Regions from separate parts of the Homo sapiens genome. Here region 2 is linked to region 1. Evidence: fine-mapped expression QTL. A gene starts in region 1. The other region holds a variant in brackets. All regions are shown on one strand. Distances are from middle to middle.

What was found. PIP is the estimated chance that this variant, and not a neighbour inherited with it, causes the effect.
Region 2: its variant is the best candidate, but not a certain one, in a credible set for the expression of HECA in nasal epithelium (TOPMed, PIP 0.51).

What each region holds. Positions count from the first base shown.
Region 1 is chr6:139,125,711-139,141,133 of GRCh38, reverse strand. HECA (hdc homolog, cell cycle regulator) reads right to left here and starts at 6,054. Exons shown (of 4, transcript NM_016217.3): 1 at 5,467-6,054. The coding sequence starts at 5,737. RefSeq lists enhancers at 4,983-5,102, 5,968-6,262, 7,541-7,590, 14,001-14,502 and silencers at 5,213-5,482, 5,883-5,962, 6,073-6,262.
Region 2 is chr6:139,176,088-139,191,510 of GRCh38, reverse strand. It overlaps HECA (hdc homolog, cell cycle regulator), which reads right to left. Exons shown (of 4, transcript NM_016217.3): 4 at 10,709-14,570. The coding sequence ends at 14,406. It also overlaps a transcript of TXLNB not described here. Among named protein-coding and RNA genes, the nearest start is that of HECA, 49 kb to the right of the region's middle. The variant C/A (reference allele first, on the strand shown) is at 6,043.

The DNA of each region.
Region 1 (15,423 bases):
CACAATATTTTCAAATAAATAAAGCCCTTAAAAATGCCAAAGAGGGCCGGGCGCGCTGGCTCACGCCTGTAATCTCAGCACTTTGGGAGGCCGAGGTGGGCGGATCTCGATGTCAGGAGATCAAGACCATCCTGGCTAACACGGAGAAACCCTGTCTCTACTAAAAATACAAAAAATTAGCCGGGCATTGTGGCGGGTGCCTGTAGTCCCAGCTACTCCGGAGGCTGAGGTAGGAGAATAGTGTGAACCTGGGAGGTGGAGCTTGCAGTGAGCCGAGATAGTGCCACTGCACTCCAGCCTGGGTGACAGAGCGAGACTCCATCTCAAAAAACAAAAATGCCAAAGAGTTGCTGATCAAAATCAGTTAGGACAGATTTTTTTCTGTAAAGAATCTCTTCTGGTACCTTCAAGTTCTTTAAATTATTCATAGCTAAAAGCCTGAAGTAAACTCATAGGAGGATTAAGCTGCAAGAGATTTTCCCGTTTTATCTCCCGTTTTCAATTCTCCATGGAATGAAATATATTCTTGGACTTACAGGAAAATTGACATTGAAGGTTTAGTTTCTAGAACTTAAGGACAGATCACAGATCCTCTAACAAGTAAAGAATGAGAGAAAGACGAGACTGCGCATAGAGCACCATGAACGGCGCACAGAAGAGCTCTTCACTTTAATACACGAAGTGTACAGGAAGAATCTTTGATGCATGAGGCAATATTTTCTGCCAATCTCCACTAAAAAGGTGGATTTCAAAAGACAACATCCAAAGGCAAATAGTTCTTGAGACCCAAAAAACTGACTTCTAGATAAGGCAAGAAAATGTTTTCTAAGATTATAATGGTAACCTATATACCTTAGATCCTCAACAGATATTCCTTGATTTGAAAATAAACAGCAAGCAAACATTTTTCATTTTCCTACTGATGGATATAGGTAATTTAAATGTAGTAGGAATTAAAGTAAACATCTAAAAAGAAACTATTTAAAATATACTACAAACCTCGGTTATAAAAAGTGTCTTTAGTGGCCTAAATATGCAGCAAAATACAAATCCTGTGCATAGGGAACAGGTGGTACTCCAAAAAAAATCTACTTGTCAACAGATATATGGAATTCAGAATGCGTTTTCCCATGGAAACACTGTTATAATGGTGGTTAATTCCCAGTCTCCTCCACAAAGCCTATTTAGTTGTTAGTGAGAAATATTTATCCCACACCTGTGTTTTATGTGAATGGTACTGGTGGTCTAAATGAAGACATCCATAATGCTAGGGGAATAAGAATGGCTCTCCTTTCACTCAGAGCTGAAGCTTCTCAGCAGAGTCCCTCTCCATAAAGGGTTTCCAGGTAAAGAGATGCCACCCTCAAGGTCATGCTCTCTTCCTGGGGGGAGCCCAAGTCCAAATGACCAGTCAACTGGGAGTTGGGGGAGTGTGTAGAAGGCCCTGCCCCTATTATTTAAGGTGAGATAACTCAGAAAGGCCATCCCACCTCCAGAGCTCCCCCAAGAGAGGATCAACTGGGGTCTCTGTTACAGATGCATCACAGTTCAACTCCTGCTTCTGCCCAATCCTGCTTCCTTCCCTCCTCCACTAGGAATGATGCCAAGAGCACTCTCCAGTAACCTCCAGCACGTGTATCTCTGCTCAGGCTATTTCCAGGATCTAAGACAAACAGCTAATACTTCGTAAGCTGGTACTGTAAGTCAGACACTGTTCTAATCTATCTAATGTATGTAATCTATTTATTTTAAATATATTTAATAGATAGATACAGATATTTTACTACATCTGTATGGGTAGGTACTACAATCCATTTTACAAAGCAGAAACCAAGGCTCAGAGAAGTTAAATGACTTGCCCAAGGTCATTTGACAAGTAATTTGAGAAGCCAGGATTTGAATCTAGGTCCACCAAATGGAAAGCCAATCTCTATGCAAACGAACTCCATCTGCTAGAAACAGTTCCATGAATTAAGGCAGACTCTGCTGCCCACGGGTTCTAGAGGCAGTAAGGAATGAGTGGAGTGATGAACCATGGTCATCCAATAACAGGAATTTATAAAAGTACTTAAGATCCAGGCCCAATGAAAACTAGATATACTATGATCAAGGTTTCAAATATTTTTAGGCCTGATATAAAAATGTAGAGGCCTAATGGAACCAGAATGAAACTACGTATCTACCTTTTGATAACTAGATTCTAAATATAACCATTGGTAATCTTGTATACCTGCAATGAAAATGCAAATGGTATGTGCAGACAGATTACTATGTAGGAAAAAGATGGGGTGGTCTTTTACACCAATCCCTGAAAAATAAGCCTCATAAACTAGTATCTTAAAATTAGTATCTAATAAATGTCTTATTAGCGGTATGATATCCTAAGAATTAATATTAAACTTACTCAAGATGCACAACTGCAGCCAGTTCATCTTCTCCAACCACAACTATACCGCGGCTTCCCCAAGCTCTCCGTAACTAGTAATCTTCCTTTACAGAATAAGTATTTATTTATGCCCACTTGACAAACTGAACAACTAAAAGCTAATATTGCCCTGCTCTGGTGGCCGCACTGCCCAAGAGCTACAAGACACAAAACCATTCTATAAACTCCAAACAACTACAAATAAACACTATTAATTTTAAGCGAAGTCATTAAGTTTGCATGTTTGCAGATGTAGATAGCTGACTTGAACAGTGAAAAACTATTTACAAGTTTCAAAGAATATCAAGTACCTCCTTTCTTGTAATAATTACTTGATTTGTAATTTCTGTAATTACAAAATCTAATGTCACAGTTAAGTAAAAAATTGAAATACACTTAAAACTACTACCGATAATAACTTTAACATTAAAAATCCAAATATTGGTCCTTAGTTGATTTTGAGAATTTACGCATCTCTTGCCCCTTCCTCTTTAAAAATTCACCAGTAACGCCTCTCCCAAACCCCTACCTTATAAACTATAGCTTTAAATAACAAAGAAAAAAACAAAGAAAGAAAGAAAAGAAAAGAAAAAAGCATTTGATTTTGCACCCAGGAGTCCTCAGCATCCAAGTTCAGTTATCATCAACTGCAGAACTGAGGGGGGGTTCCTCACATTAAGGTGAATCATTCACGAAGACTTCACATCACTTCAGAAACAAGAATCAGGCATCATAAAATTTGGCTCACTCCTCTAATATAAGTTACATCCTCTGACCCTGACTATGGGAATGTTGGCCCATTCCTTTTTCTCCCCGCCTTTCACTTAATAAAATAAGCTCCTAATCAGAAACAGCTCTTCACATACACTGTGCTGCTAAATATACTTGAGTCTGCCACTTCAGAGAATAATAATAGGGGCCCCTTAACCAGTTTGTTATGTACAAACTAGGAGGTACAAGTAGCCTAAGAAAAAAATTTCCTCATGCCACCTTAAATTGGACTAATCTTTTGGAGCAAGAAAAAAAAGGAAACTGTGAACTTGAAGCTTCCACATAGGCCAAAAAAAAAAAAAAAAAGGAGCTGGTAGGGGGGTGGGCAGAGCAAACCAAAACCACCACCAGAACAGGAATGCAAGCTCCCTGAGGACCGGGATGTCTCGTCTTGATTACCGCTGGATCCCTTAGTATTGAACACGGTACTTGCAACACTGCAGGTAATCTTTTTTAAATGAATAAACGAAAGCTGTCATCATTGTTCATGCACTCTTTGTGAGAAACTTTAAGCTCATTATATATGTAACCTTTAAAATAACAAGAACTGGGAGCATAATAGGGAAGGGGCACTCTGAGCCTCTCAATAACACTAGGAGGGAGCCAGGGTAATTTTTTTTCAAGTTTACACATGAGGAAATTGAGGCTCTGGAAGACTGACCTTTCCAAGATGATGAAGCTCTAAATGGCTGAGCTAGGAGTCTGTCCTACCCAGAGTCTGAGCACCTTTCTCTCTGCCACATCAATACCAAAATGAAGGTTAAAGCCAGGAGAAAAACAAAAGAACATGAAGAACACAGGCTACCCAAAACTAGTATTCTGAAACATTCACAAACGGGGTAAGTTTGTTTCTGAAAATAAATAAATAAATCTTCCTATTTCAATATTGCAGAGACACAGCCAACGGGGCCTACAGTTCTAACAGGCGACATTCAGCCGCCTATGTTCAGAGCACTGTACGCTGCTTGTAAGAGCAGGTGCCCTGTTTAAAAAGTGCCTGATCTGGCTGGGCGTGGTGACTCACGCCTGTAATCTCAGCACTTTGGGAGGCCGAGACGGGCGGATCACGAGGTCAGGAGTTCGAGACCAGCCTGACCAATATGGTGAAACCCTGTCTCTACTAAAAATAACAAAAATTAGCCGGGCGTGGTGGCGGGCGCCTGTAATCCCAGCTACTCGGGAGGCTGAGGCAGGAGAATCGCTTCAGACCGGAAGACGGTGGTTGCAGTGAGCCGAGATTGCGCCACTACGCTCCAGCCTGGGCGAAATTGCAAACTCCGTCTAAAAAAAAAAAAACAAAACAAAAAAGTGCCTGATCTACATAAAGAATGGCTTCAAAAGCTGACGCTATAAATTAAAAGCCAGATATAACAATTCAAATCTCCCTTCATTAAAATACCTACGTTGTCTTCCTGGAAAAAGTGCCTGACTAGAGGAATTCAAAGAACTGTCCAAATAAGTAAGTGTTTGCCCAGCACCTTATAACGAAAACCATGGCTCTGTAATGAGAACAGAAATCCTGTCACATCTGGGCCAGTTCCTAAGTGTCCCCTCAAAAGGAACATTCAGGCACTACCTAAGATTATGAGGCTTCCTTCTGAAAATGTTAAGCACAATGACATAGAGAATGATTTTTCTTTTCTTTCTTTTCTTTTTTTTTTTTTTTTTTTAACTCCGGGCTGAGAACGGAAGTCAAGTTCAGATTCTCTTCCTTCCTCAAGCAAGCCAAAAAATTAAAGAGCAAACACAGAGGCCCTAAATGTCTCGAGGCCTCTTCACCTGTGGCGATCGACGCAGCAAGCCTGGGTGTGCTAAGAATTGAGGCTCTCTCTCCTTCATTCCGGGGGTTACGGGTGGCCTTGGAGCACCGGGAAGAATTAACCGGTGCCTAAGTTTTCAATCGGATCATTCTTCTCAACTTGGGCGGCTCTTTCCTCCCTTCCTTCCTCCCTTCGGCCCGGCACACACGGCGGGGCAGTGCCAGCGCGGGCAGCAGGCTGGGCCCGAGGGCAGCGCTGCCGCAGCCGGGAGCCCCTCAGAGTGTGGGGCGCGGGCTGCCCCCCGCGCGGACACCGGGCAGGGGCCGCAGATCTGTCCCCGCCGCCAGGCGTGGGGACCGCGAAGGGGCAGCCGCGGCGGGGCGGAGGGGCGGGGTGAGCACTTCCTGACTCTCGCATTGTCCACGCACCGCCCGCGCCACCCAGGGCCCCGCCACCGCGCCGTCCCCGTCGGGGAGGAAGTTGGCGCTCGCCCCGCCAGCCCCGTCTTACCGTTTTTGGCATCGCCCGCGGCCGCAGCCCCCGCGGCGGCCGCAGCGTTCGCGGCGCCAGTCCCCGCGCCTCCGGCGCCCGCCGCGCCTCCGGCGCCCGGCGCGCCCGCCGCCGCCGCCCCGCAACCGGCCGCCGCCGCCAGGGCCCCCCCGGCCGCCGCTCCCGCCGCGCCCGCCGCTGCCAGGGCCCCGGCTCCATTTTCCTGCTCGTCGCCGCTGCTGTTGGCGCGCTTGTTTTTGCGGCCGCCTTTGCTGTTTTTGGGGTTGGGCATCTCGCTCGCTCGCGTCCAGGTAGGTGCCCGGCGTCAGCGAAGGCGGATCCCAGAGGCACGGCCGTTCCCGGCCCTGCGTGAAGCCGGCTCCGGGAAAGAACGGAGGGCGCGAGCCGGCGGTTCCCTCGGCTCCCGTCTAGCCGCACGGCCCGTGCCGCGCCATCCTGGCCGCCGCGCCCTCTCCGGCTTCCTGGAGCCGGCACGCGGCCACCCGAGGCTCGCAGCCGCGCGGGCGCCGCGGGCCCGGGGCGCAAGCGAGACGCTCCCGAGCCGGAGGGAAAAGGCGGGTCTCCGGCTTGTTTTGATTCGGCTGCACTGACACGCTCTGGGCCCGCCCCCTCCCGTGACGACACTGGGGATTCGGCCTGGCCGCGCCCACCAGGTGACCTCACGGCTGACGGGACCGCCCGCGTGACGTCACGCCCCGCGCGGGGCCTGCCCACCTCGAGTGACGTCATCCAGGCGTCCCCACCCGGGCCTCCTGGACTCCCGGGCGTTCATGAGCTGCCCTGCTTGACTTGCTCCACCCGCCAGTGCAGTGGCATGTGGAGTTCTTCGGTGGCCTCCTGGCCTTAATGTAATTGAGGCTTAGAACAGTATGGTCTGGAAAAATAAGCTGTGACTAGAGCAAGAATGGAAAACAAAAGATTTTGGATTAATAACTCATTCAAAGGCTATGCCTTTCAGTAACAGTAATTAAAGAAACAGGGGACCGGGCGCGGTGGCTTATGCCTGTAATCCCAGCACTTTGGGAGGCCGAGGCGGGTGTATCACGAGGTCAAGAGATCGAGACCATCCTGGCCAACGTGGTGAAACCCTGTCTCTACTAAAAATACAAAAAAAAATTAGCTGGGCGTGGTGGCGTGCGCCTGTAGTCCCAGAAACTCGGGAAGCTGAGGCAGGAGAATCACTTGAACCTGGGATCCGAGATCGCGCCACTGCACTCCAGCTTGAGCAACAGAGCGAGACTCTGTCTCAAAAAAAAAAAAAAAAAAAGAAAAGAAAGAAAGAAACAGGGTAGAGTTCCCAGACAATGGGGATGAACACCAGGGTCCTGAATGGGAAGCCTTCACAGTCTGGTGGTGAAAACAATTCACTCAAACAAGACCCATCATCCAGGGATGTAACTAGATGTTGCCTGGACTCTGAAGCAGTCCCTGCTTGGGGGGAACCCATCCCTATGCATAGGGCTGAGTTGTCCTGAAAGATAGTGAAAGATAGGTAGCCAGGTTATGAGCAGTAGGAGATTAGGTGACACCAGTGAAGACAGGCAATATGAGGGCAGGGGACCCCTGGGAAGAGCTCCCCTTGATCTCTTTCTGCAATTCTATTCTACCTTTTCGGCCAACTCCTTCCCTTCCTTCAGGTCTCAGCTCAAATACATCACTTCCACAGAGACCTTCCCAGGAGAGCTGTCAGAAGTTCCACCCTGTTATTTTCCTCCTCCATCTCTAATTATGTTGGCAATGTAGGTGTTTACTTATTTCTTGTATATCTCCCTCTCACTGAAATGAAACCTCCATGGATAGATTTTATCTGCCTTGGGCACATCAGAGAACAGCTGGCATAAATTTGTTGAATGTATAAATTAGGTTCCTTCCTCACGAACTGTGGAGGAAAGACTAGTTTAGCTGACAGCTTTACAGTGTTCCCCTTTTATAGTGTAATCTTTAATTCAGCCCTTTAGTAAAAGCTCTGTCACGGTGTTGTTGTTACCATTAGAGGGTCTTGACTGCAAGTCGTCCAAGTTCTTGGCATTTTGAACAAACAATTGGACCAAACGCCCAGCAAAGCAAGGAAAGAAGAAAGCAGGGATTTATTGAGAATGAAAGTACACTCCACAGTATGGAAGCGGCCCCAGCGGTGGCTCAAGGTTCCGGATGCAGAATCTTCTGAGGTCCAAATACCCCCTGGAGGTTTCTCATGTAAATGAAGTGGTGACGCACAATTAGTCTGATTGGTTGCTTTCGTCAACCAATCAGAGGCTGAAGTGGAGTTAACAAAGGTCACACTTCTGTGCAATCACACTTTTTGCACACTTCTGTTTAAAAAGCAACCAATCAGAGGCTAAGGTGAAGTTACAAAGTTGCACTTCTATGCAAAGACTCCACCCGCAATCAGTCTCATTGGTTGCTGACAGCCAGTTTCCCATCTGCCACGCAGAAAAGGTGAGGGTTTGCAAAGGGAGCAGCTTCTGGTCCTTTTGTTACTCAGGTGTGGAAAGTTAGGGTTTTCCTTTCAATTTAGTTTAGGAAGTGGGGTGAAACGCCCTTAGGTTCCCTGCCTCCAGACTCTGTTCTCTGCCTCATTGTGAACTATACAGATAGACAGGAAAGTACAAGAAACAATACTCTCCCCCACATTCAGGTAATGGAGAGGAGATTCTGATTGCGAGCTCTGGGCAACCATAGCAGAATGCATAACAGAGCCTGGAACGGCAAGAAGGAGCAAGCACTGGATACTCAGGGGAAATTGCTGGTTGGACTCTTTAGTAGAAAAAAAAAGTTGAAATTTTAAATTCCCTAATATGTATTAGAGGATAGTGACCCTTTAGAAGGCCCTATTGATAGATAGATATTTTGTGCTTATATTTTCATGTCTATTTCTCCCCAACCTTGAAATCCCCTAGGTGCTAAGAGAGCAGGGATTGTGCCTAGCTTTCTAACGCTACAGAGTCTGGCATAAACCTTGACCCACAGTAAGTATTCAATAAAAATTTGTTGCATGGAAGATACCTAAAGCACTCTTCTTCTGGCTACATTATTCTGAACCTTAAAGTCTCAGCTAAATCATCAATTCTCTAGGAAATCTGTGACAACCCAAAACTAGACTTGTCCCCAGATACTCCCTGCACCTTCCTCACCATAGCAGCTTACACACTGGGATATTGCTTTGGTGGCCACTTGGACACCAAAAATGAGGGGTGAAAGAGAGAGTGAAGTCAAGAAATTCTGAAAATCAGAAGAAATGATGAAGGTAGTTAATTAAAGGGAGACTTCCCGGGGAGGGCAGTGGGTCCGTGGAGGAAGATAATGAATTACTGTTGCCCATTCAGACTTAGCTTAATTTCATTATTGATACCACTAGAGGTCTCAAAATATGTGGGTGATGTTAGCTTTGGCGTTTCTTTTTTTTTTTCTGGTTTTTTGTTTTGTTTTTTTAAGTCGTGAAGGCGAAGACATTTTAGGTTAGAGTACAAGAAAATTGAGATAATTATTTTCTTGAATAAGCACATTGCTGTCATGCCATATTGGATCAGAGTTAGTATGCATGTACCCTGCAGACAGACATTCACACCAGCTGCCTCCCACCTCTACATAACTGAGAATTAAGAATTGGAAACTTTCCACAAAAATATCCTAATTGGCTCAAAGCACCCAGACATCCAGCCAGTTGCTGTTCTGGTTAATTGTGTGAGCTACCTCCTTCTATTCAAACTGAAACAAAATGAAAAGGAGGAAGGAGAAGCTTGCCACTTCTTCCATGCTCAACCTCGCTAATCTATTTTTAGCCTTAGTCAAATTTGGTGCAGAGGCAATAGTTCCGATTTTATTGCTACAAAGACAATATACTAAAATCAAGATGTTAGGAACAAAATGTAGGTGAAGTTAAAGGACTCCATTTCCTATGTTCTATCCTGCTGTCCTAGCCGTTTTCCCACCATTTCTGAAGGTGAGAGAGAGAGACAGCATACCAAAAGACAAAAGGTGGCAGATGGTACAATGGAACATTCCCCTTAGAAACTTCCAGAAGTATAAAGAACTCCAAGGAACTGAGGAAGCCACTCTGTTCTGTACATCTACACTTGCCTTCTCATTCTTCAATTTCCCTGATCAACTCATGCTCTGATATAAACTTCAAAAAAATTATACCTCTATCCTAGGTTTCCTTCCCCCAAACCTCACCCACCCTATTGCTCACTTCTCTGCGAAAACAAAATAAAGCACAGCAACAAATCAAGGGCATCAAAAGCAAACAATTTACACCCTTAAGAAAGGGGTGGGCTAATCTTCAGGCTGAACTGGAATAAGCAGTCATTGTTTCAGTGCCCTAATTTTGTTCATTTGACATTTTGTGGCTGTCTTCTGAGCTCTTGGGGTCAGCTAAGTTTGGTTAGGTTTAAAGTACAAAATATATGTGTTAAGGATAATTGAAAACTTAGAACATAGGTAAGAAGCCAAATATCCAAATACACCTTGATCGAAAAAATCATATTGGAACTCAGAAGGAATTCTGCAGATAACACAGTAATGCACACAAGAATATGTCCACAATTGAAACATAAGCTAAAAGGTACTAAAGCCTGATCTGCTAAAAAGTCACTTCAAATAAATACACCTGGAGCAATGCATTGTCTTCATGCATCAGTTTTTTCTTCTGCAAATAGCCTTTCCTATGGCCACAGGTTTTCTTTGAGGAATAATGACAATTGTGATTATAAAAACTTTGAAAAAATGGAATATTAAAGCAAATAATAATATTGATTAATAAATTCCATAGATCTACTCTCCCTTTAGGCTGTTCCCGATTACCAATATTAATATTTTTCTCAAATATTTGCCCTTAAAATCTCTTTTCCATCCTTTAGTTGTGACTTTTACATTATTTTCATAATCTATAAAAGCAGTCATAAAAAAGGGTCAGAATTTTTTTCAGTGATCCCTGAACTTGCTGCTTACTCGAACCTCTGTGCCTTCCTTGCTCATACTATTGTCCCAGTTCAGCATCAATACTATCTTAGGCCCCAGTAAACCCGAAAGAACGTTTCCTTCATGAGATTTATTTACTTTTTTTTTTTTTTTTTTTTTTTGGGACGGAGTCTCGCTCTGTCGCCAAGGCTGGAGCGCAGTAGCACAATCTCGGCTCACTGCAACCTCCACCTCCCGGGTTCAAGTGATTCTCCTGCCGCAGCCTCCTGAATAGCTGGGATTACAGGTTTGCGACACCATGCCCAGCTAATTTTTGTATTTTTAGTAGAGACGGGGTTTCACCATATTGGCCAGGCTGGTCTCGAACTCCTGACCTTAAGATCCACCCGCCTTGGCCTTCCAAAGTGCTGAGATTACAGGTGTGAGCCACCTAAGAGGCCGCGCCCGGCCTAAGAGATTTATTTTTATGTTTATTAACTTTGTTTACTGTCTGTCCTTCCACACTAGAATGCAAGTTTCAAGAGGGTGAGGATTTCTCTGTTAATCTTCTGTACCTAAAACAGGGCCTGGCATATAGTTAAGTGTTTAATACATATTCATTCAATAAAAGAGAATGGAGAGGAGCACCTAAAAGAATAATTTGAGCCAGATCTCATGAAGAAAAAAAGAATTCTTCTAAAACCACATTTTTATGTTCAGCTAGCATAATATTTAAACCAAAAAGGGATGGCTCAGTTTGGTCTAGATTTGTATAACAAGAACCCCTATAATAGCAATACCTTCATCAGCAATTGCAGTGGCCATGGAATTATCCATTTCTACACCTTGTATTTCTGATATCTCCTCTGGAGTGTCACTGAAATCTCAAAGATTTTTGTCATCTAGTTTTTATCAATATCCCCTATGTTTATGCCCAATTAAAATCAGCACTTTTCTATTCTGCCATTCTAAAGCTTGACTTAACCACAGTGCTTCTGAAGGCTGTCTGCAAGATTTGACTTAGATAATACAACATTGGCCCTCTCTAAATGCCTCTTTTAATATGGTGCTAATTATCTATTGCTGCCTAACAAATGACCCCACAATTTAACAGCTTAAAACAACAAACATTTATTATCTCACAGTTTCTGTGAATCAGTAATCTTGGGATGGCTTAGCTGAGTCCTCAGAAGGCTATAGTCAGCCAACTGGGGGAGGATCCATTTCCAAACTCAGTCCTAGGGTTGCGAGAAGGATTCAACATTCCTTGTGGGCTGCTGGCCCCAGACCTCCCCTCAGTTCTTTACCACAGAAACCTCAGCCTGGGGCAGCTCACAACAGGGCAGCTGGTTTCATCCAAGGGAGAAAGACAGGGAGCATGAGAGAGTAAACAAGACAGATGCCAATCTTTTTTGTAATCTAATCTCAGAAGTAACATCCATCATTTTGCTGTACTCTGTTTCTTGGAAGCAAGTCATCAGATTTAGCCAAAGCTTGGGTGGAGGAAATTACACAAGGGCATGAACACCAAGGGATGGGGATCATTAAAACCCATCTTAGGGCCGGGCACAGTGGCTCACGCCTGTAATCCCAGCACTTTGGGAAGCCAAGGCGGGTGGATCACGAGTTCAGGAGTTTGAGACGAGCCTGGCCAAGATGGTGAAATCCTGTCTCTACTAAAAATACCGAAATTAGCTGGGCGTGGTGGCACGCACCTGTAATCCCAGCTAATTGGGAGGCTGAGGCAGGAGAATCACTTGAACCCGGGAGGTGGAGGTTGCAGTGAGCCGAGATCATGCCACTGCGCTCCAGTCTGGGCGACAGAGTGAGACTCTGTTTCAACAACAACAACAACAAACCATCTTAGAAACTACCTACCACAAATATCTTCATATACTGCTTGCACTCTAAGTTCTCATTTTCAAGGGCTTCGAGTTTAGTTTATAAGATAAAAAGCATGGAAAAATTAAGACCTTATTCCAGTTCTTCCTTTCCACACTGCTGTTTCAACTAATGAATCTTTGATGATCTTGGATGATAAAATTTCATGAATTTACAATAACTTTTGCAAAAGATCTTTGGCTTAAGTGTTTCAGGCCTCTGTAGTTAAAGAACTATTGACTTTTAGAACAAACACAATCAGTGTAGTTAGTTCATTGTTGGATCTGAGGATCTATTTCAAGAACACCTATTTTTTTTCTAAGTGCTAAGGCTACTGCTCTGCTTGTTTCTGGAGTTAATTTTGATTGATCTTGGCTAGAATTTTCTCTCAAGATTCAGCTTCCTCCTTTATTTCTACTTGGAATGATTTCTACCAAGAATATCCTGAGGAACACTAGTTATATAAGACGTGCCTCTATTTCTGTGGTAAAATAAGTCTAGGAAACACTGTATATTGTATGAGTCACAATATATATTAGCATAGTAAAGATCCTAAAAGTCCAGCAGTAAAGAAACCTGTTTACTCTCAACTTAGAATTTCCCAAATGTATATAACCTATAAATCCTTTTACATGTAATGCTTATTAACATTCTACGGAAGTAGAGTCCTGCTGAATATTTTTAGGGGAAATAATGCCTTGGAACAACAACAACAAAAATCTACTTCTAGCTGGGCACAGTGGCTCACACCTGTAATCCCAGCACTTTGGGAGGCTGAGACAGGCAGATCACTTGAGGTCAGGAGTTTGAGACCAGCCTGGCCAACATGGTGAACCACCCCCGCCATCTCTACCAAAAATATAACAATTAGCTGGGTGTGGTGGTGCACTCCTATAATCCCAGCTACTCGGGAGGCTGAGGCAGGAGAATCTCTTGAACCTGAGAGGCGGAGGTTGTGGTGAGCCCAGATGGTGCCACTGCACTCCAGCCTGGGCGACAGAGTGAGACTCCATCTCAAAAAAAATAAGGAAGAAGAAAAAGAAAAGAAAACAATCTACTTCTGGCACTAGCAATCAGGTGAGTATTGATACAATGGTGAAAAGACAGATACTGGATCCCTCTTGTAAACAACCAGTTCTTTAGAAAACTTCTTGGGAAATATCTTCAAAACTATAAAACGGAAACTGTCAGAAGATATAATACATTAAGTACTAATTCTAAATGATGTAAACAGTTGAACATTCATGGTATTGCTTCCATTTTAAGAAACTTCAAATATGCTGTAATTGTTATAGGTAACAAAAATTTACCATCACATGAACAATCAGTTTCACATTTAGTCCAGTAATAAGTACTGCTATGTATGGTTCTGGAGTTCATTTCAATCAATCTCGAATAGAATTTTGTCTTAAGATTTCCTTTCCTCCTGCAGAATATTTGTTCTAAGTCCTTAAATGCAAACATAGCACTGCATGGATTAAAGATGAACACAAATGTGCTACTCCTCTCTTCAAAAGGTGGAGTCTGTTTGCCTTCCCCTTAAATCTAACCTGGCCTTGTGACTTGCTTTGACCAATTAGAAATGCAGCAAAAGTGCAATTGCTCTAGTCTGGACCCTAAATTTGCTTTTGCTCTCCCAAAAGCCAGCCACCATGCTGCAAAGAAACTTGAGCCAGACTATGGAATGATGAGAGGCCACATGGAGAGGGTGACAAAGACTCCGTCCTTGACCAAACTTGAGTCAGGCCCCTCTGATTCCTCTTTTTGACTAGGCCCCAACCTTGCCTCGTCCTTGGCCTGCTTAGTTCCGTTTTAGCAAGAATCTTGCTGGGTCAATTTCATAAAAATCCCCAACTTTCCGTATGAGATCAGCCTGGCCTGCCTTCAGCAAGAATCCTCTCAAGTCAGTTTGGCCACAATCCCCCTAACCTTGATGTTTCCTCTTAGTAACTGTCTATCCACTGACTCCCACCCCTGCTCCTTGGCTACAAATCCCCACTTTTCCTTGTTGTATTTGGAGTTGAGCCCAATCTCTCTCTCCTAATACAAAACTCCATGGTAGTAGTTCCCCTGAAAAGTTTGCATTACCATCTGTAACAAATGTCATGAATAACATTTTTCTTTAATAAAAGATCATGGACATGTGGAAGATGAGAAAGGATACTTGTGTTCCAGCCCCAGCCAAGCTCTTAGCTTCGTGGTTCTCAACCCCTGGCAATTTTGCCTTCAGGGACATTTAGCAATGTCCAGGGATATTTTTGGTTGTCACTTCTAGCATCTAGTAGGTTGAGGCCAGAGATGCTGCTCAACAGCCTGCAATGCACAGGACGCAACAACAAACAATTATCCAGCCCCGAATCTAGTGCCAAGCTTGAGAAATCCTATCTTAGCTGAATATAGCTGTATGAGTCACCACAGCTTTACCACATGGAACAGATTGCCCGGATGAGCCTAGTCAACCCACAGAATTGTGAGAAATAATAAATAGTTGCTGTTTTAAGCAACTCTTGGGGTAGTTTTAGTGCTGTGCTGTTGCTAAACTGGCTGGGAAGGGATGTGGGAGGGAACTCTGATTTGTAGCATTTCTAGTTGCCCATGGTATAAATACTCCTACTGTGGCCAGTTTTAGGTTATCAGCACAAGCCACTGAACTCAAGGTTGGGAAGAGATGTGCACAACCAGCTCTTATGAGCCAATGGGAAATGATTAAATTGTTATATTATAGTAGGCAACGGAGGCAACATCCCATGTACAAGATCTTCTTATGCCTGAAATTCTAGGTATGGCCACTTCCTATATGCTGTTGATCACCTAGTCATAGTTCTCTACTTCTATATTGTGTTAACATTTCTACTAGAAAATTCTATTTTAAGTGCTGACATACTGATTCTGCAGCCTTCCTGGTTTGGGCCATTTTTTTGCACCATTAAAGTTGCCAAGTTGGGTTTAGCCAACAGTCTCCCACAGAGGATCACAGCATGGACTCTACTCCAAACCAATCCTACCACACTCTCCAATTTGTAATATTGTGGCCCATGGTCTGGTTTGGGTTAAAACATTGCCCTTGGTAATCTGTGGGGTTTCTTTGTAAGAGGAAACACCTGATCAATACCTAAAGGAGCTGCTCAAAAGTGGAAGCCAGGGTGATAAGAGTACCACTGTGTATTGTTTGGACCT
Region 2 (15,423 bases), 50 kb before region 1:
TATGGTAGCCACTAGCCACATGTGACTACGGAGAACTTGAAATATCGTTAGTGCAGTTGATAAACTGGATTTTTTTATTTTTATTTTTTTTGAGACAGAGTTTTGCTCTTGTTGCCCAGGCTGGAGTGCAATGGTGCAATCTCGGCTCACCGCAACCTCCACCTCCCAGGTTCAAGCGATTCTTCTGCCTCAGCCTTCCCAAATAGCCGGGATTACAGGCATGTGCCACCAAGCCCGGCTAAGTTTGTATTTTCAGTAGAGATGGGGTTTCTCCATGTGGGTCAGGCTGGTCTTGAACTCCTGACCTCGGTGATCCGCCCATCTCGGCCTCCCAAAGTGCTGGGATTACAGACGTAAGCCACCGCGCCTGGCCAGATAAACTGGATTTTTAATTAAAAAAAAAAAATTAAACTTCATTTGAACAGCAGTATGTGGCTAGGCTGCTGTACTGAATGGCACAGCTCTAGAGGTCTTGATTCTAAGCAATTCTTGTATCTGTCCCCCTTTCTATACAGTACAGGGATTGGGAAACAGGATTTTTAAGGTGTCTTCTTTTTCTGACGTTTTCTAACTTTTTAATCTTAACTACTTAAATAATCCCACACAGGAGCACTGCTATGGTCTGAACGCTTGTGCCTCCTCCTGCAAATTCATATGTTGAAACTCTAAGCCCCAAGGTGATGGCTTTTAGAGGTGGGACCTTCAACACCTGTGAAAAGAAGAGAAAAACAAAAGCAAAAAACAACAGAAGGGGTGGGGCCTTTTGGGAGGTCATTAGATTATCAGGATTCTGATCTAATCAGAATGAGTTTGGTGCCCTTAGAAGTCCAAGTATGCTTTGTTCACACCTTTGCCATGTGAGGACACAGCTAGAAGACATCATCTATAAGAAACAGGCCCTTGGCCAGGCGTGGTGGCTCACTCCTGTAATCCCAGCACTTTGGGAGGCCGAGGTGAGCAGATCACAAGGTCAGGAGTTCCAGACCAGCCTAGCCAATGTGGTGAAACCCCGTCTCTACTAAAAATACCAAAAATTAGCTGGGCATGGCGGTGGGCACCTGTAGTCCCAGCTACTTGGGAGGCTGAGGCAGGAGAATCGCTTGAACCTAGAAGGTGGAGGTTACAGTGAGCTGAGATCGTGCCACTGCACTCCAGCCTGGGCAATAAAGCGAGACTCTGTCTCAAAAAAAAAAAAAAAAAAGAAAGAAAGAAAGAAACAGGCCCTCAACCAGACACCAAATCTGTTGGCACCTTGATCTTAGACTCCCCAACCTCTACAACTGTAAATAATACATTTCTGTTGTTTATAAGTTACGCAGTCTAAGGTATTGTTATAGCAGCCTGAACAGACTAAGAATCACTTTTATTCTAAATGTGTAAGATATGAAGGCAGTTCTTATGATCCAGGTATTTTCTTTACTGTTAATATTTTGACATTTGGTTTTCTGAAAGGAATCCCCAAGGAAGTAGGCACCCAAAACACAAAACTAGGAAAGAAAATTGTCTGAATTCCCCACAGCTGCCAGCACATTTGTTTGACAGACAGCTAATGGGCACAGCCCTATAGTAGGCATTATGGATAGAAGTTGTCAAAGACAGTCCCTGCCCTAGAGGAGAGCCTACTTGGAGTGACATTTACATGGAATCCCATCACGTGACTTCCATAGTACAACAGCTAGCAATATCTCTGTATCCCCCATCTGAGTGACTTCATACCCGACAAGATCAACCTTGCTAAATGCTGACATAGATCCTATAAAACTGTTTTCATCTGGCTCTGACCTCTCTCCCCGCAAACCTCCACAGCTGCAAAGACAATATTGTCTTTGAAGAGGTGAAAGCTTACTTCCTTGGCCCAAACTGGAAATCTGACCTGGAAGTTTGTATTTTCAAAAAGAGCACATCTCTACAAGTTGAGAACTCCATTTATTTCAGACCTTTCTTATTTCCTTTCTTTTGGGTTTAATAATAAATTCTGAAATCCTCAGACTCATAATTAATATCTTGTTAATTAAAATTACACATAAACCAAGAAAACTAAATGCCAAAGTACTTGCTCTAACCTCAATATAGAGGCAGTTCTAATAATAAAAAACACTAATTTGACTATTTTAAATATTCTTCTTAGATAAAATCATCCTTTTGAATTTTAATGCTTAGCAGTTTTGAATAAAGCTTTCACATGTAGCTTAATTTGCTAGATATTTTCTTAGAACTTTCAACTAATGCAAATCCAAACATGCAACATGAAAAACATCAAAAGAGAAATCATAAACTTTTGGGCAACAGAATACGCCTGTCACCTCCTTTGCAATGCTTTTACCCCGAAAGCTGTAATAAAACATTAGTGCTTCTTACACTACACATCATATGATTGCTTACTGTTAAAACCCCAATTCCAAAGAACCACAGGTTATATCCCACCTACATAGAATACGAGGTTAAAGAAATCTGGGCCGGGCATGGTGGCTCACGCCTGTAATCCCAGCACTTTGAGAGGCTGAGGTGGGTGGATCACCTGAGGGTCACGAGTTTGAGGCCAGCCTGGCCAATGTTGTGAAACCCCGTCTCTACTAAAAATACAAAAAGATAGCCAGGCATGGTGGCACATGCCTGTAATCCCAGCTACTCAGGAGGCTGAGACAGGAGAATTGCTTGAACCCTGGAGGTGGAGGTTGCAGTGAGCCGAGATCATGCCATTGTATTCCAGCCTGGGCGACAGAGCAAGACTTCGTCTCAAAAAAGAAAGAAAGAAAGAAAAAGAAATCTGGAAAACAATTGAGATTCCAACACAATTTTTCAAAAAGCTCTTGCTTCCCGGCATACATACAAAGTGCTACATATGCATTAATAAATCTAACAAAAATGTAAATGAGAGACGTTGGGAGTGAAATTTCTCTTTCAGAAATTTTTCAGTTCAATAAAATTCTTAATACAAAAATGCAAACCTTATAAGTCAAATGCTTTGTCAGAATTTCGATTAGATTTTTTAAAAATAATCTACACTTAAAATTTCATGTTAGGGTAGATCACAGATCCTGTTTTAGATAAGAGAAACAAATGGATCATTTTTCCATCCAAAGAAGAAATAGGTTTTTGAGCACAGGTCTCAGTTTGAAGCTGACCCAACTAGGGAAAAAACAAATACGGCTGTCACAAAATTTCTATCCATCCTTATTAAGACAGATTTTATCTGCCTGCCAGTTGCACAACTTTCTCAACCCTCTTCTCATCTCACTGCCTCACTGAGGCCTGGTTTTATCTCCCTTTCCATCAACGCACCCATCGATTTGAGAGACATAAAGTAAAGCCACTCTCAGAAGCTCCTGTATCCATGACACAGGATCTGCAATTCCTCCACTGCTATTAGAGAACTCTTCAGGAGCCTCTTAGTAAGAAGGCCCCTGGGAAGCTTTCTTAGGGGTTACCACCTAACTGGTTGGTGATGGAAAAGGCCATCAAACATTGAGCCATTTTCCTCATCGGTAAAATAAGTGTTGAGTCAGACAATCTTGCCCTAACATAAGAATGCTTCCAGAAATAACATAAATGATCCTAATACGGAACATCTTTGGCACTTACTCCATGCCAGTGACTGCAATAAACACTTAATTTAATGATTTCATTTAACACCCCCAGGTAGGGACTCAATATTTACAGGTGAGGGAAGTAAGGATTTAAACGAGCTTGAGCAGTAGAATCTTCTCTCAATCAACCTTTCCTTAACCAATCCAGCAATTAACTGCCTCTAAATTGCTTTGTAAAGCCACACTATGATGAATGACCTCGGCCAGATGAATGCTGGCAGCTGGGAGCCTCCTCGCTATCAGGCACCATCTGCATATGGTTTCCCCCAGCAGAGTTCTGTACTTACCAAAAGTTACTCAGGTTTATTCCCAGACTTGCTTATGCCACAGTTACGTTTGCCATTGCAATGATGTAATTTAATAAAAAAGTGCACAAACCAATGAAATATAATTATAAAAAAAAAATACTGTTTTGATAACTCAGTAGGATGCTTTGAGCAGATGAGGCAAATCATATACACAAAATACTGAATTAAACATGGGGAAAAAAAAGCAAAAGATTTTAAAAAATGGAAATCCTACAAGTCTAGAGAGGTTCTATATTTATAGTATTTCTCATGTGTCATTAAGTTCCAATTCCACTTTAAAGAGAACCAAATAGGAAGCATTCTTACAGTGCATCATAAATGAAGGTTTGCAAGAAAGTGTAGTCCTACAACTAGAGGGTCTAAAGAACCAAATCTGTCAAATGAAAGTGTATTACTGATTTAAATATAAATAAAATGTTTATGATATACAAGTTATCCTGGGTAGGGAGGTGCAGGGGGGAGAAGAGGGTATTTTTTTCTGGCTGATGGAGGTATAATTGACACAGAATAAACTAAACATATTTAAAGTATACAATTTAATAAGTTTGACAGATGTCTACATCTGGGAAACCATCACTACAATCAAGACAGTGAACACATCAGTCACCCCCAAATTCTCTCATGCCCTTTGCAATCATTTTCTTTCTCTTCTCATTAATATTCCTCCACCCATCTCCAGGCAACCACCAATCTGTCACCAGATTCATTTGCATCTTCTAGAGCTTTACATAAATGGAATCATACAGGGTGTAGTCTTTTTCTCTGGCTTCTTTCACTTTAATTATTTTGAGGTCCGTCCATGGTGTTGCATGTATGAAGAATCTGTTCCTTTTTATTGCTGGGTAGTACTCTGCAATTGCATATTGCAATTTTGTTCATTCTTCTGTTGATGGGTATTTGGATTGTTTCTTTTTGGGGCTATTACAAACAAAGCTGCTACAAACATTCATGAATGAGTCCTTGGGTAGACATATACTTTCATTTCTTGAATAAATGCACAGGAGTGGAATGGATGGGACATAGGTTAGGCACATGTTTAACTTTTTAAGAAAACTGTGAAACTGTCCCACCAGCAGTGTAATAGAGTCCCAATTACTTCATATCTTTGCCAGCACTTGATATTCTTTTTAATTTCAGCCATTAAAATGGGTGTGAAGTGGTACCTCATTGTGGTTTTAATTTGCATTTCCGTAATGACTAACAATATTGAGTACCTTATGTGTCATCATTCCTTTTTCTGTTAACGTGTTTGTTCAAATGTTTTTTGGGGGAACTTTTTATGTATTCTGGATACAAATCCTTTTCTTCCAGTCTGTGGCGCTTGTCTTTTTATTCTCCTAACAGTATCTTTTGAGAAATTCTTAATTTTAATAACATCTAATCTATCCATTTTTGGATTTTACATCTGATCCATTTTGAGTTAGTTTTAAAAATATGGTGTAAATATGGATCCAGATTGGGTTATTTATATATTTTTGCATATGGATATCAAATTGTTCCAACTCCATTTGTTACATTATCCTTTATTCAATGAATTCTCTTTGTACCTTTGCCGAAAATCAACTGATTATAGGGTCAACTTGTTGATCTTCTTGCTGATTGTAGGTAATTATTTTCTCAACTAACTTCTTTTTTGATTTGCTGACTAACTAATGTCTGGGTTTGTCAAGGAGCTTCTACTATATCCTGATGGTTAAGAAACTTGTTGCAACAGGAAGGGCAACAGAAAGGACAAAGTAGGAAAGAGAGAGATAGGCAGGTAAGGATAAGTAAGATAGGCAAAACTATCACAACAGGTAGAAGAAAAAGGACTAGAAAAAAAGTGAAGGACATTTTTTTAAATGGCATTTTCCCATCACCAAAGACCACCCTTAACCCAGTATGACTCTATCCTATGTTTTTGTGTGTTTTGTTTGAGACAGAGTCTCGCTCTGTCGCCCAGGCTGGAGTGCAGTGGTGCGATCTCGGCTCACTGCAAGCTCCGCCTCCCGGGTTCACGCCATTCTCCTGCCTCAGCCTCCCGAGCAGCTGGGACTACAGGTGCCCACCACCACGTCCGGCTAATTTTTCACATTTTTAGTAGAGACGGGGTTTCACCGTGTTAGCCAGGATGGTCTCGATCTCATGACCTCATGATCCGCCCACCT[C/A]GGCCTCCCAAAGCGCTGGGATTACAGGCCTGAGTCACTGCACCCGGCCACAACTCTATCCTGTGTTTTGAAAACTTATGTCTTTAAAGTGAACTGCATTTATTAGGTAATTCATTTGTTTTCATATATTATTCATCAAAGGCATATGCTACTGCCAGTGTTTCTGAGCAGCTTGATAACCAAGATTGCAGTAACTCCTGCCAAAAGTAAACTGACCTTTTAGGTATCCTGTGCAGCCTTGTGGTGGGTAACTTTGTGATCTCCATTAAGTTTTCTGAAATATGCACAGTAGCCCCCAGGACTCCCACTATCCCACTCCCTGCCCAAATCATTCTCTTTTCAGAACCATGGGGTTCTGGAGCCTCAGAGGAACGCAAGCCTATAGGCTTCACCCGGCTTTACTTCCCTCATCAATCACCTGCAGTGTCATCAGAGCTTCAGAAAAATATGCAATTTGTTAATGTGATGAAAATAACAAAAAGGCATAAAGCGCTTATTCAACCAATGGTTTGGCAGTAACTTAGAATACTGCTAATTAGCAAGGGACAGCCCCTAAACCATAAAAAAATTGTCATTCCTTAAGAGAAACATGTAACCAGCACTTTTTCCAAGACTATATGGAACTCCAATAAACCCTGATCAAGTCAAGCAACCCTCAACAGTCTGGGATACCAGAGCTTCTAACAAGATTGTGAGAAATTGAAAATTAAACACACCTAGAGGAACTGTTAGAAAAGTTAGTCAAAAAGGAAAACCCTGCCCAAACTGGATAGATCAATGCTATCAAATCCGACAGCTTGACATGTTTGAATCCAAAAATAACTCAAAGCTAGATCCCCAAGTGAGTAAAATGATGAATTCGTGGTGTAGACTGTGAAAACGTCACCTTATACCCAGAGTTCTCCTTAAGCAATCATCTATCTTAACAAAAGAGAACAGATGTCAACAAATTAATGCATTAAAAGATGAGGTGAAGACACAACTATTGATTTCAAATTTTTTCCCTTTGAGAAAGTGTTCTTTTTCTAAAATAGGGGATGCTTCCAATGTGCTCATCACTCCTATGCAGAGGGCCCAGCTAGGCCTCACAGAATTACTTCTATGTTGGCGCCTGTGTTGCTGAAGCAAGGGCTACTATAGCTTTTAAATCTACTCCCTTGTCACAAGCCCAAATTATTTCTCAACTGAAAACAAGGTGCCCATCCACTGATACATATATTGAGCAAATCTGTAATTTCCACACCCACAAGGCTCCTCTCACTTACTTCTGGGGACTCCCTGCTCTGTACAATGTCCAGACACTTCTCCTTCCATGTTTGTGTATTACACCCAACCTCGTAGGAGACAAAGTAGCAAACATAAGCAGCCATGTCTGCTCATTTCTGCTTGCTAACATAATTTCACGAAGCGCTGACTCCACAACAATGTGCAGCTCTCTGAAAGCATGCTTTGAGGACAGTGCAGTATTAGCAGACGGTCCTCCAAGTCTCTTGCCTGGTCACTATATTCTTTAAAAGATAAATGACCCTAGTCCTTGTGTTTTCTAACATATAATGTCTGACAGGCTTAGTGATTATGCTTCTGTAATCTACAACTAGATGTACTCTTAAACCCAAACTCTGATGTGATTTTGCACGTACCGAACCTCCAGCATCTGTATATAAGCAGTGGGTTGAAGTATCTGTGCTGGAGCAGCCTGGCAGAACCTCTCTCAAAGGCTGCTCCTGGGCTACAGGCCTCAGCCTACAGTCTTCAGTAAGACTTCTGAATAAAACAACCTTTAATTATTTAAAAGGTTGCTATTTTTTTCTTTAGTCAACATCAAGTTAGATATCTTATTAACATATCTGGTAAAAGTGTACATGGCTGTAATTGACATTTTCTTTCCTTTACAGAGAGTCTAAGTGCCATTCATATAGGCCCCCCAATTTGTTACCCTTAGCATCAGAAAATGAAATCAGTAAACACCAAATGAAAGCAACAACAAAAAAATTAACTTCAGGATCTAAAGTTCACATTTAAAACAGCTTCAAAAGTAACATGCACAACTGGCAACGATCTCTTCAGACTACTAATGTCCAGATCTGACAATTAATATGCTAAAGGTGGCCAGTATGCAAGTGGTAACAGAAAACAGAAGGGAAAACCGAAGAAAGTTCATGAATTCTCTACCTCTGAGCAAGAGTTAGCTAGCTGAGTATGTTACCGAATCTCACTTTGAGGACTAGGAGTGGGAATCCAGATTTAATTCCTAGTTAGTCATTAACTATATGAACTTACTTAGATTTAACTTCTTTGGGCCTCAGTTTACCTCTAAAATGAGTACAATTGTCAATGAAATTCACAAACATTTACCATGTGGGTAAAACAAAAAGCATAGCCCTTGCTCCAAATTCTGACACGTCTAAATTCTATGACTGTTTTGGCTATGACTTTCTCACTCTTAGAATAACTGGGTTTATTAGGAATTACAATTAGTTCTATGCTTGATTTAGATATCTAAATTTTTAATCAAGTGTAACAGAACCGCCTGAGATGGTGTTCATCACCAAGAAATGGTGCTACGGTAGCCAATTCCATTTGAACACTGATGAATGTAACCAGTGTTGTTTTACTGAACTTCATGAGACAAACTGCTTTATTTTTACTTTTGCTGTTTCTGAGGCTTAGCAATGCCAGGTAGAGCTAATATAATTACCACAATGCTAAAAGTTTCTACTAAAGAAAAAATATGCCTTAAAAATACATTACTATTTCAAATATTACATCTGTACAGCACTTTATTGTCCTCAAAGGTAGTTCACATTCAGCAGGTAAGGTTTACCTCACTGCAGAGTTGAGAGAACAGAAAAAGAAGAAAAGCTCAAGACAAGAATTTCTTCCCCCTTTGAAAATTTAACCCTTTACTAAACAGCCTAGATAATTAGCAATCTAATTGCTGCTGAATTTGCCAAATTTAAGTCAAAACAATACAAGCAAGATCTAAAGTAATGGAAACCACCAATAAGAAGTAACAATTTTCTTCCATTAAACTAATTGCTTACCAATCACCATTTAACTTCTTTTTTCTGCAACTTTTTTCCTTCTACAGTATGAACTGTACCTTCCTTAAAATTTCAAAGGAATTTTGCTGACCATAAATTACATTGGTAGAAATCATATCCCAAGTCCTTTATAAGGCTTTAAATAAAGTCAAATTTATGCCTCAGACATCTGCATTAGTAAGTAGCAACACAGGCTTTGAATCCACTGGCAGACTCAAGACTTTCTTTACCCAGGTTTCCCCAACTTATCTTGTGTTCTAATGTTTGTGGATTTCAATCTATTGGCCAAGAATGATATTTGAATTGAAGAGGACAAGGAGATTTAAGGATAAACTATTCTTGATCACAGTATATGAAGTCAGCAAGACGTTCAATTAGACTTCTTTGCTTATAATGAAGAAGCATACGATCAAGTCTTTTCATGATGAAAATTGTTACAGGCCTAGGAAACAAAAGCATCTGTGGAATAATCTATTGTCAAAAATAAAATCAGATCAAATTTTAAAATTGTATGTTTATTGTGCACATAAAAGAACAGCTGGCAAACCTGGAGACCTCAAACCAAAATGGTTAGAAGTCTGCACACAGCAGTTATAGTACCATTTATAAAGCATAAGGGAGAAAGTATTTTCACCCTCTTTTATAACTGGCTATTACATGTTAACATTCTTTATAAGGAAAGCAGACCAGTTGTTGATTTGTCTACACAGTAGGCACTCCCTTATCCTTAGGGGATCCTTTCCAAGACCTTTCCTATACATTCATACCTATGATAAAGTTTATAAATTAAGCACAGTAAGAGATTAACAATGACTAGTAATAATATAGAACAAGTGTATGAGTACACTAGCATTACTCTTGCACTTTGGGGTCACTTTTGGGTAAAATAAAGGTGACCTGAATACAAGCACCGCAATACCGGGACTCATCTAGCAGCCTCCTAAGTGACTAATAGGCGTGGGACGTCTACAGCATGGATCCACTGGACAAAGGGATGATTCGCCTGCTCAACAGGATGGCACAGGACTTGAGATTTCATGATGCTACTCAGAATGGTGCACAATTTAAACTATGTGAATTGTTTCTGGAATTTTCCATTTAGGGTGACCATGGGTTACTGAAACAACTGCAGAACGCAAAACAGCAGATAAGGGGGGATTACTGTATGGCTAGTAAGTTTGATTTCACCAAATCATGCCGACAAGGCCTTGCATTTTGTTTTGATTAGAACTAGCATTTCAGGGAAATCAGGACGACTTAAGTTTTGGCTATGTGGCTATGGGTGGTTGACCTTGGGGGTCTATCTAATCTTTAACACTATACTATCTATCAAATAATAGAATTCCCTAAAACCGGAACGATAATTTTGGACTATTCGTATAGAATCAACTTTGTCATACTGAAAGCTTTTATTGCAAAGTGAGTTTACATGTGATACATGACGCAAGCAGCAAAAAAGTTGGCAGTTTTTTTTATTAGCTGCAGGAGTGACTTTGAAATGGTTACCTGAATAGTGATCAAAACCTCAGAAAGCTTTCTCTTCATCTTTTCTGACCAGACAATCCCACTGCTCAAAAATCTCAATGAAAAATAAAGTGACAAACTAAAGACAGAGTACAATGTTAGTTTCTGGAATTTTATTATTTTTAATACATACATTTCACAAACAGAAACCCTCTAAAACCACACACAATTCCACAACCAAATGTTTCAATTTTATCAACATTCTTTAACTATTTACACTGTCTTTCCTCAACAAAAGTGCAATCCAAGACATCTTGACAAGAAATCTTTACTGACAAGAATTTATTTTTGAGCTGGTTTTAATGGAGCCCATCCATTATATTTTCTTTCAATTACCCGGAATATTCAGTGAACAGGACATAGAGATGAACTGGGTTAGGCAGCATCCTATTATAGGAAATAAAACACTAAACAAGAACACTTTCTCCTCACTTCCTTCCCAACCTCCAATGAAAGTTACTCAACAGCTGCTACCAGGACACAAAACAGAAAAGCAAACTGGAGTTCCTGACCTAGACACAGGAGAACAGACTGTGTATTAAGCATCAGTCTTGCAGGACTAAACAAAAGACTTAGCAAATTAGTTCTGGTGCTCTAATAAGGTACATATCTGTCTTATCTGTTAGTTTTAGAGTTCAAATACCTAATAAGATTCTTTTTAGATGAGTTAATTTTCCCCCAACATATATGAAAATACCTTTTACTCAGAAAATGAACTTCTTGAACAAAACCTAGAAGTTAAAGGGCATTTAAGGAAAGCTCCTCTGTAACTAGAATGGGATAATTCACCCAACTCCCCAACTTCATGGCACCATGTCTATCTTTTAAAGTATAAACCCATTATATCAACTGCTTCAAATGTAACAAGAGAATGAAGAGGTGAGATGGCCTGAAGAGAAAACAATCAATCAGAAATTGTCCTCTCACTAAAGCAGATCATTGTATCTGCTCAAGGTATAAAACTCTTAAAAATAAATAATTAAAAAATATTAAGAATAGACGAAAAATCACTTTGAAATTATTAGTCACTCTTAAGACTGCTTCATTTTACTGAACACTATTCATCAGAAAAACAAATTGGATCTCTTGGGTAACTAATATCCTTTTAGTATCCTAACTACAACAAAAATACTAACCTTTTTTGATATATTCCAATTCCAATCAAAGTATTCAGGGCAAGCTTGGGGTATTAAGGTCAGTAGATTTCCAAAATAAGATTTATCTTCATGGTGTTGAATATTCGATTATATTTTATTCCCAAATCAGCCAGATTTTCCCTCTAGACAAGAATGAATCGTCTTAAAGGCAAAAGATATTCCCAGATATGCTTCATGCTCTTATGCTTTTCTCTTTAAGTAACATCCACAGAATCCTTACTTTAGCATCGAAATAATGTCCAAGAGTAAACTTTACCCAATTACAGTAAAACCTCATCCTATTTATTGTTCAGGGGGTAGAAAGCCATCTAAAAAGGCAACATGGAACACAGCATACACTACACTGACGGCAGTTCTAAATTCAGGAGCTTGCTGAATGCAATGTATAGGTCAATTGTAAGCTTCAGAACAACAATATAAAGCAGGTTTCACTATAAAATTTTAGGTGGGTTAAAGATCAGCATCATAAATATTTTACTATTTAAATTCAGAAATAAAATCCAAATGGTATTACGAGGACAAGAGAAACTTAGCACTTTTTGCATCTGGGTACAGGAGAGAATCAATAAGGAGATAGTTAATTCACCACTACAGCTTTGTGCATTAAAGACAAGTTTGCAGAAAGCTATGTCTTACAATCCTCTTTTAGTTGCATCAAACACTGTCAGTTCAATGACTTTCTACTTCTTATAGGCATTTTATGCATTTCTTCCCACTGAAATGTTTTTTCAGATGATCAAACACCAACCTAGATGCAGCAAACCAAATCATCCAAACTGAAAGATGAATGATATTAGTGAATAACATTGGTTCTTTAATGCTGTATTGTTTCAAACAAAACATCAAATACTTCATATAGAACTGAAACTTGGCCAGGCACAGTGACTCACGCCTGTAATCCCAGCACTTTGGGAGGCCGAGGCAGGCAGATCACAAGGTCAGGAGATCTAGACCATCCTAGCTAACATGGTGAAACGCTGTCTCTACTAAAAATACAAAAAATTAGCCGGGTGTGGTGGCACGTGCCTATAGTCCCAGCTACCTGGGAGGCTGGGACAGGAGAATCGCTTGAATCCAGGAGGCAGAGGTTGCAGTGAGCTGAGATCGCACTACTGCACTCCAGCCTGGGTGACAAGAGTGAGACTCCATCTCAAAAAAAAGAAAAAAAGAACTGAAACTCACGTGCAATATTGCCTAAATACTTCTGAAAAGAAAAACCACACAGTTAAAAAAAAAAAAAAAAAAGTATAAACCAAATGAGTAACATAAAATGTTCACATCAACCCCAAATTTGGCTATTCATAAAATGATTTTCTGCATTCTTTTAGCATATATGCACATCATACATGAAATTATCAAATTAATTTTTGAGAAATCATATTCCAATTCTATAAGGGTATGCGACGTCAGTCTATTTAAAGCATTAAAATCTACTGAACCAAAGGCTGTATTTTGGAATGCCCAATGCTCTGACTAATCAAGTTCTATATATATGATCATCCTTTTTCATCAACAGTAAGGTATCATGGGCTTTTTAGAATGGTCTATTTTTCAAACATACTGCTATGCATTAAAATCATTGATTTTCCAAAACATACTTTTAAAAGAAATAGTAAAATTATTTTCTTCATCATCCTTTCACACTTTTTTCCCTTCCCTCTTAAGGTCAAATCTTTGATTTTGGAAACTCAGAATTAATTGGTTATACATGGCCATAAGCAATTTTGAGGACAATAAATGTGGCAATTATTGGTTCTGAAGCTCACCAGTTAGATTCTGTGGCTGAAAGATTTACCTGTGAGAAGAACCTGACACCAAATGACACTTCAACAGTGCAACCTGTAATAAATCATCACTGCCCAAATCAGGTTATTCATGGGTTCTCCTTAAAAGCTATATTACCAACTTCAAAGACACAATTTAAATGATTGAGTTCTGCCTTCTTGCATTATTTCCAAATTCATTTCACATATTCTGTTATAGGTCAGTTTACCTAAACATATTTGCAACACTAATATCTTTCATATGTCTTACAATTTGGATATTACTTTCAGCATGAAAAATGAACTGGCAAATTACAATAGTGATAGAAACAGCACTTGTGCCACTTTCAGGTCACCTGTCAGTGTGAGTAAACTGCCTGCCCATGTGTGCTGCAGAACACTAGGCTGAGATAGACTAATGCACTATTAGCTCTCCAGGCACAGACTTACATTCACTTGTCACATATTTTTCCAAAGGCCCAAGGAAGATCTAAAAGAAGGTTTTTAGAAAGTTAACATTTTAGTAAGAGTTTCCTTCCAACTCCTATCAAGCTCTTAGTTTATAACCACAAATTCCTTTCCTAAATTCACCCCATCCTCCCCACCATCTTAAAGCTGCATCAAAGATTCTTGGTAAGAGTGAACCCCAACCCAAATGCACAGGATTACCCATCTGGGCTCTGGTCAAAACCACAGATTAACACTCGGGAATCAAGACAGGGCAAGGGCAGCCCCTATTTTAGTGGCACACATACAACAAAGTAACTCTCCTTTAAATTAGAAAGGAAATTAATGTCACAGAATGTTTCCCTATAAAAGATATGTAATAAAGTAATAATATCAATAAAATAGCTATTACTAAAGCAAAGCTTTCATCAATAAGCTTCGAGAACTTTGAAGGAGGAAAATGGCTTCACGAAGTGGTAGTCCAGGTTCCCACAGTGTGGACACTGCTGGACGTTGCTATATTCGGAGAAGTACTGCATCCCGATCCTCACGTCGATCACCGGCTTCCCACAGTGCTTACAGTTCAGGCGGGCCTGGGGGAAACAGACACCATCAGCCACAACACCCCTCCACTTCCCAACACTTGTCAAAGTCATCCAAACCAAAATGCTGGGAAACTGATCAAGGGCTTTGCAAAGCATCCCTTTTACTACCAAAAACATGGAAACGGGGTATACCTGAAAGACTCCCAACTTCTCTCCTGATATGCAGCACTGCTAGCTGTTTCACCTACTTATGAGAAGAAAATTCTAAACTACTACTGCCTAAATGCTCTCCACTGAAGTTCCCTAACAATAAGAAACCCCTCCCCCTGGATTTTAAGACAGCGGCTGAAGCTGACTTCCCTCACCCAAACCTCCACGAAACTTCTTTGAAATTTCATTTTTCATTCTACTCTATAGAAAAGTTGCGTTTTCTTTGATGTAAAAATAAAATTTCCCAAGATACTCAAGTAAAATTAGCAATCCAGGAAGTGCGGTGCTGGTCTGAGGCTTCTGGAGTTCCCAGCACCCTGCATCTTCACTCATGCCTAGCCTCTCCGTAACAGCACAGTCCTGGAACCTTTCAGCAATGGGTCCAGGACTTAAGTGAATAACCACAAATTATAAATAAAACAGACTCAATTTAGACTCATTTTAAAAATGTACTTAAAAAGTATAATCTCAACTTGTTCTCAAAATACTCCTGGGAGGTAGGTAGTATTAGCTGACTTTTAGATAATGCAACTGAGGCACATGTGATAAAGCACCATGCCAAAGACCATGGTTAGAAAGCAGCAAGGCTGGAGTGAACCAAAGCAGCCTGCTGATCCTCAGCCACTGCAGGAACTACTTTTCTGTAACCTGAGATAAACACTCTTTTAACTACGTAATCTCTCTGAACAAC